Linked DNA regions of Homo sapiens. The protein of the gene in region 1 interacts with the protein of each later gene in a biochemical or structural test. Each region holds a gene or a part of one and is shown in the gene's direction. Other genes may lie near its edges.

Region 1 (3,500 bases):
CAGCTAGCTCTCTTGCTGAAAATGAGCAACATAAGTACATGAAAAACCCAACAAGTAGGATTTGAAAGCGGGGCTAATTGTACCCTTATTTCTTCTGGGGATAAAAGTCTTAAACTTTGTTTAAAGTAAAATGTTTTTATTTCTGACGGTGATTTGTTTCACTTAAATAGCTTGTTGTTTGTTTCTTTCATTTCTCTTAAGTTTTGGGTTGGGTTTGGTTTGTTTCCCGCAAGTTTTGCCCGTGCCGCCTTCCTCCTTGTGCCTGCAGGGACATTTGCTGGTGTGGCAGCCTCCAGGCCCGTCCCCAGCCTTTTTCTTGGCACACCTTCTCTAGGATGGCTGGGACAGTGACTTAGCTTCTACACCTGTGACTAACCATTTTCATTCCATTCTACAGCTTTGACAATTATTCTGCCAATGTTATGGTAGATGGAAAACCGGTGAATCTGGGCTTATGGGATACAGCTGGACAAGAAGATTATGACAGATTACGCCCCCTATCCTATCCGCAAACAGTAAGGATTGCAGCTGACTTTTAATGTGTCTTTTAGAGTATATAATTCTCGAGCGCTTAATTAGTGCATGTTACCTATGGACTTGCTTATATTGCCATCATTTGGGTATTGAGTAAATAGCAAACAGGGTGGGATTGGTTCCATGTAAACATCCCCCTAGATGCAAGCCCAGGGGTTTTGTGTTTTGAGCGTTACCAGCTGTTCCATTGTTGGGCATTTTACAGTCTTCCATTTAGCTTTAGAATAACCGTATGAAAGAGCTACTTTTTGTTTTTGCAAACCAGTTTTTAACACCAATTAGTTTGAAGGCAGGTTTGCTGTGTGACATTTTTGTACCACAGAATCAAATTAGGCAGTTAAGATTCAGGTTTCTTTAAACCAAGTTAGTAACTAATCTCACAGGTTTAATACATTTTTTCCCACAAAATACATAATTTGTATGGATTTTGTGAACCATACAATAGAACCTAAATTTATTCAATGTAGATTGAAGTTTTGGTTTTGTAAAATGTATCCACTGTGTCTAATCAGAAAAAAAAGTTTACTTTTGCTTCTGTATCAGACAACTAAGTGATTTATTTACCAAAGCTAATTAGAGCAGTAGCTGGTGAAAATGGGTACTTAGAAGACATTGTTGTCATTAAAAGTTACTTTTCTTTAAGCAGCGGTTTTACTTGTGTATCATTTGCTTATCTTGTTACATGTTTGTTCTTCATTTTTAAAAGTATCTTTGGAAGCAAAAGTTAAATATGCTTGAGATTCCTTGGGTTGATAACCTGTGTGCATGTCCTAGCTCTGTGACTTCAGGCAGGCTTCATCCTCTCTCCAGTCTTTGCCTGTTTCCTTGTAGGGTGAGATGAGTACGTGTCACGCACGCATAACAGTCCTGGGCACATAGCACACACTGTGGGGCCAGCCGCTGTCAGAATTCTCCTGTTCCTCAGTGTGCGGGTGGGTCGGCCTAAAGAGTGCTGCTTTCCACGTTGTGCCCAAATGAGTGGAAGTTGTGTGGTGCTCAGCACACCTGGGTTGGCCGGAGGGATTGGGGTTGGGGTTGGGTTGAGGTCAGGAAGACATCCTAGAGAAAGGCTGGCTTTGAGCCCTGATTGATGATGAGGCAGCCTGTGATTGATTCAACCAGTACTTCGTTGTAGGGGGTAATATGGGTGAAATAACTTAGTGGTTAAGTCTGCTGTATTAAAAATCAGTCTATAATCCCCAGACAATTCAAATTCTTCAGTATCTTAGGAAACTCTTCTATACCCAGTGGATGTTTAATAATTCAGATTGTAAATGGATTTAAAAACATACTGGCTGGTAGAGTAGGAGACTTCAGCCCACTGGACACATGTGGAAGGGTGTGGTGTCATTCTGAGAAACAAGAGCCACCCTGCTGTGACTCAGGGGGTACCGGGCAGGGTGAGGCCTCTCTAAGGAAGGCCTCACAGTAAGTCAAGGGTGACTTGGCAGGAGTCCCACTTTGTGTTCTGAGGAACACACAGATAAGGAAAGAGAACTCTCCTCAGCTTGAACAAAGCTGTAGAGTGTGACGCCTGGTATCAAAGTAGGTGTTGTCCTCATAGGGCTAGAACTTAAACTTCATGTTTCCTCTGTGTGAGACTGTGGACTGCTTTCCTATAAAATATTTGAGGAGCAAGGAGGGAGTGGGACATGGTTCTTGCCCTCAGGTAGTTCACAGAAAAGTCCCATAAACTGTGTAAGACACCCTGTGCTAGCAAGGGGGTGAGCCGGGCGCTTAAGGAGCAAGAGGGGCGAGCACCCACCCAGCAGTGGAAGCATTCCTGTCTGGACTCCTTCAGAGATAAGGAAATTATCTTGACAACTCAGGGGCAGGCCACAGATGCTCAGATACCAGTGTCTGGAAGGTCTCATCCCTTTGAGCCACACTGTCCTAAGAAGAACTGGATCTGGTAGTAACATGCTGGCACCTGGGTCTCTTGTTGATAAAGGGGAAACCTCTAAATTTTGTACTACATGGAATGTGGTCCCTGATTGCTGGCTCTGTGGTCTGCAGACCTGTTGATGTAGCTCATCCAAGACTGCTTAGACACTCTCCTGAAGGACCAGTTGGAAGATTTCTTATCTAGGGTGTCCTAAAAAGAGATGTTACATTTCTTGTGGTCATTTAACATTGGCATCCTCTCTATTGGGCAGCTCTGTCGGGCTAAGTCTGTTCAGACCATTCATTTCTTCTTCGTTCTCCAAAAGATGGTGAGCAGGTAGTCGCCATTCTTAGTTGAAATTGCCCTTCAGGTTTTTATTTCCCGAATTACGTAATCCTTACATTATTTTCTCTTGAAAATCTTTGCTAAGTTCTGCATACTCATCTTCAGTTGCTATGCACAGAATCAAGTCTTGTCAGAGTAACGCTCAAGTCCAGCATCTTCCCTTGTGTAGATCACCTGTATTTATTTGCCTGCTTGTACCAGCATTGGTGGTGTGAGTGGGAGCCTAAGTGACCTGTCAGTGTCACAGCGAGTCCTGAGCCCTGTGTGTGTCCTGAGACTCAGGCTGTGCAGCGGGTTCGCTGAGATGCTGAGCCTCCATGTTGGGGTCAGCCAGGACCCCAGTGCGTCATGCCAGTTGTTTCATTTTCTCTCTAGGCTAAAAGTTGTTGTTGTTGTTGTTGTTGTTTGAGACAGAGTTTCGCTCTTGTTGCCCAGGCTGGAGTGCAATGGTGTGATCTTGGCTCACTGCAACCTCCGCTTCCCAGGTTCAAGTGACTTTCCCGCCCTAGTCTCTCAAGTAGCTGGGACTACAGGCATGTGCTACCATGCCTGGCTAATTTTGTTTTGTATTTTATTTTTTTTGAGACGGAGTCTTGCTCTGTCGCCCAGGCTGGAGTGCAATGGTGCGATCTTGGCTCACTGCAAGCTTCACCTCCTGGGTTCACGCCATTCTCCTGCCTCAGCCTCCCAAGTAGCTGGGACTACAGGCGCCCGCCACCACACCTGACTAATTTTT
Region 2 (3,500 bases), on another chromosome or scaffold:
CGACCTGTGAGCTGATACTTTGTCACCTTACTGCTCTATTTTATTTTTCTCTCTTGAGATGCAGTGTGGTGCTGATAAAATGGCAGAAGCTTTGGAGTTGAATAGATGTGGGTTTGAATTCTGACTTCCATTGCCTGCCTCAGTAGCCTTGGGGTTTTCTCCTGTACCTTGAGAGGTGTGTGGAAATGATATATCTATAGAGGTGGCTGATGTGGTTCCTGGCACATAGTGCTAAACAAGTTGTAATGGTTTCAATTAATTGAGCACCTAATACTAGCAAAGTATCGTGATGAATGAAACACCGCTTAGCTGCTGACAGCTTACCAGAGAATCTGGGTGACAAGTAAAAATGCTTATACTTTTAGTGCCCTTCCAAGTTCTGTGGAAGAGAAGATATGAGAAGGATGGATTTGGATGGCGGCAATGGGAGGGCTTCATGAAAGTTGTGAATTTGAAATGACCTTGAGGAAGGTCAGAGGAAAACCTGAAAGGCGTGCTAGTATATTTGTACTGTGGAATCTTCTATTTATATAGGCAATAAAGGACAATTGGAGCTGTCCTGAGGAGAGTCACCTGATGCAACCCCTTACTGATGTACCTTCTTGTTCTTTGAGATGGTTTAAAAAAAGAAACACCCCAAACTTTTCATTAGAGACATGGGTGAGTGGCCCAGTGAAGTGAGTGACAGGGGAGGCAGGTGTGGCAAGACAGCGATGTGAGCATTTGGTGCCCTGTCTGCTGGCTGCTTAGCGGCCTCTTCACTGTGCTTCTGGGTTTGGCTGTCTTTTGGATGAACAGCTTTGCCAGAGGGTTTTGCCGAGGATAGGTGAATTCAATGAGAACAGGTAAGAAAATGAGTTGTACTTAGAGCAGGACAAGGATATTGACAACTGAATTCTCTAGGGGGTAGGGTTTCTCTCACCTCATTTTTCTTCATTCTCTCCATTAATTGTGGCAATGTTTACCTTTCAGATTTCACTGATTTACGGTCCTGCAATGTCCAGCATCCCAGTTTTATTGAAGAATGACTTAGACTGTGTTTCCAATTCATTGGCAATTGCCTGAGGAACTTTCATTTAGACTTTTTGTGGGATTTTACTAAGCTCTAATTGGACCTTCCTTTAATTTTATAATCGTGTATTGTGTATGACTTCTTCTTGCCAAGGTGCCTAAGAGGAGCTGACAGCTGTTTATTTAGTATATGCAGTGGTTTTCAAAGAGCAGTCTCTGGAGCAGCAGCAGCAGTAACAGCAGCGGAGCATCTCCTGAGAGCTTGTTGGAAAGGCAGATGCCCAGGCCCCACTCAGACCTGCCAAATCAGAAAGCCTGTGACGGGGTCTGCAGTCTGAGTTTTAATAGGCCCTCCAGGTGATTCTGATGCGCTAGAGCATCAGAAAGGTAAAGAGGCATTTCTGATATATAGTTACTCTTCACAGTGCTTGCAGGTTTTTGTCAAGTAAGTGAAAACACATGGGTATGTTATGGAACGCTTTATTTACAGTATCTCTTGGATGTTTGATTTGTAAACCACATGCTAACCAGGCCTTGATTACTTTACAGGTTCATGTTTATTTTATAGAATTAATTCTGCTATGACTTTAAGTTTGCTTTTCTTTCTTCTGGGAAACAAATGTGATTTGGAAGGTGCTGTAGTTTGAATGTATTCCCCAAAGTTCGTGTGTTGGAACGTAGTCCCCCATGCAGTAGTGTTGGGAGGTGGAGCCTAATGAGTGGTGATTAGGCCACCAGAGTTCTGCCCTCCTGAATGGGTTAATGTTATTGTGAGAGTGAGTTTGGTAAAAGGATGAGTTCAGCCTCCTTTTCTCTCTCTTTCACCCATGCGATGCCTTTTGCCATGTTACGGTGCAGTAAGAAGGCCCTCACCAGTTGCAGGCCCCTCAACCTTGGACATCCTAGCCTCCAGAACTGTGCGGAAACAAATTTCTGTTCATCATAAATGACCCAGTCTCAGGTATTCTGTTATAGCAGCACAAAACAGACTAAAACAAATGGAAAAGTTTAAAATCTCCACTGACTAGAGATAAAGCAAGGTTAGCTTCCCAGGGATTTCAGCTGGAAGTGAGGCTTATAGGAGCCATTGGGAAGGCTGAGTGAACGGGGAACCTTTTTGTGTAAGAAAGGGAACTCTAAGCCTGGAAATTCTGAGCTTCTAATCCCTGGGGGTGGCACATGGGGGGCTGGACAGTAAGAATTGATAGATGTCCTCCTTCTCCATTTTTTTTCTCTCCAGGACACCTTACAGTGTTATTCATTTATTCGTTTATTCATTCACAATTTTTAGAACTGTTGAATATGTTAGCAGAGATATTATTTGATAGACATAAGTGCACCCAGGTCATTCCCAAATTGCAGGGAAACTACCAATCTGTTTAATTTACTTTTGATAAAAGATAGGAGGACATTTTTATTGTTTATTGCTTGGGATCTCCCAAAAAGAAGATTTCTAATTGGTTGTTCTTTCTCTATTACTACTAAATCTCTGAAGGAAGACATTTTAATTTTTTTAAAAATTAGGGTGGTTTATTTCTTGATAATTTTTATTAAGAGATAGGATCTCACTATGTTGCTCAAGCTGGACTTGAACTCTTGGGCCCAAGAGATCCTCCCGCCTTAGCCTCCTGTGTAGCTGGGACTACAGGTGTGTACCACCATGCCTGACATAGTTCCTGATAATTTTGTCTCAGTTCTCATATTTTACTGGCAATATGAATTCAATCTTAAGTAATGTTAATGCATATCCTATAGTTGTCTCCAAATAAGTAGACTTGATTTGCATATAATTGAAGCAACATATATTTCACATACTTATGCCTAGATTCAGTATCTAGCCAGCAGCTTGGTATCCTGGCACTTAGAAGATACTCAGTAAATATTTGCTGTTATGACAGGTTTGCATAACATGTCTATACTGTATTGTTTGTCTAAATGAGGAATTTATTGTCTGTCTAATTAAAGATCATCTTGGCAGCTTTCAGATGCCATGCAAACATTAAATGTTGAGTTTAGATTTGCTTCCATCCCCTGTGGAACCTGGCAAGTTGTTTTAATTTCTCTGTGCCTCAGTTTCCTCATCTGTAAAATGTAAGTGGAAAATGCATCATCAAAGGATTAAATGATTTAATAGATGGAAACGTACATGCTCAAAGTGTGCTCCCATGGAGTCAACACCTAAAGGGCAGGGATGGTGATGGCAGAACCCCCCTCATTACTGCTGCCCCTTGGTCTGTATCCTTCTTTACCTGTATCCTTCTTTACCTGTATCCTTGTCTACCTCCTTGCCTGTTCTTTTTCACTTTAACAGAATGTGGATTTAAAATCCTAGCCCTATTTTCTTTTTTCTTTTCTTTTCTCTTTTTTTTTTTTTTTTTTTTTTTTTTTTTTGCGATGGAGTCTCACTGTGTCGCCTAGGCTGGAGTGCAGTGGCGCGATCTTGGCTCACTGCAACCTCCACCTCCCAGGTTCAAGCAATTCTCCTGTCT

What was found.
Region 2: the proteins of RAC1 (region 1) and IQGAP2 form a complex in vitro, tested with the Homo sapiens proteins (one study listed by BioGRID).

Annotation. Positions count from the first base shown.
Region 1 is NC_000007.14:6,391,527-6,395,026, forward strand, and holds part of RAC1 (ras-related C3 botulinum toxin substrate 1), read left to right. Parts: intron 1-397; coding exon 398-515; intron 516-3,500. UniProt on the Homo sapiens protein: Plasma membrane-associated small GTPase which cycles between active GTP-bound and inactive GDP-bound states.
Region 2 is NC_000005.10:76,409,785-76,413,284, forward strand, and holds part of IQGAP2 (ras GTPase-activating-like protein IQGAP2), read left to right. Parts: intron 1-3,500. UniProt on the Homo sapiens protein: Binds to activated CDC42 and RAC1 but does not seem to stimulate their GTPase activity. Associates with calmodulin.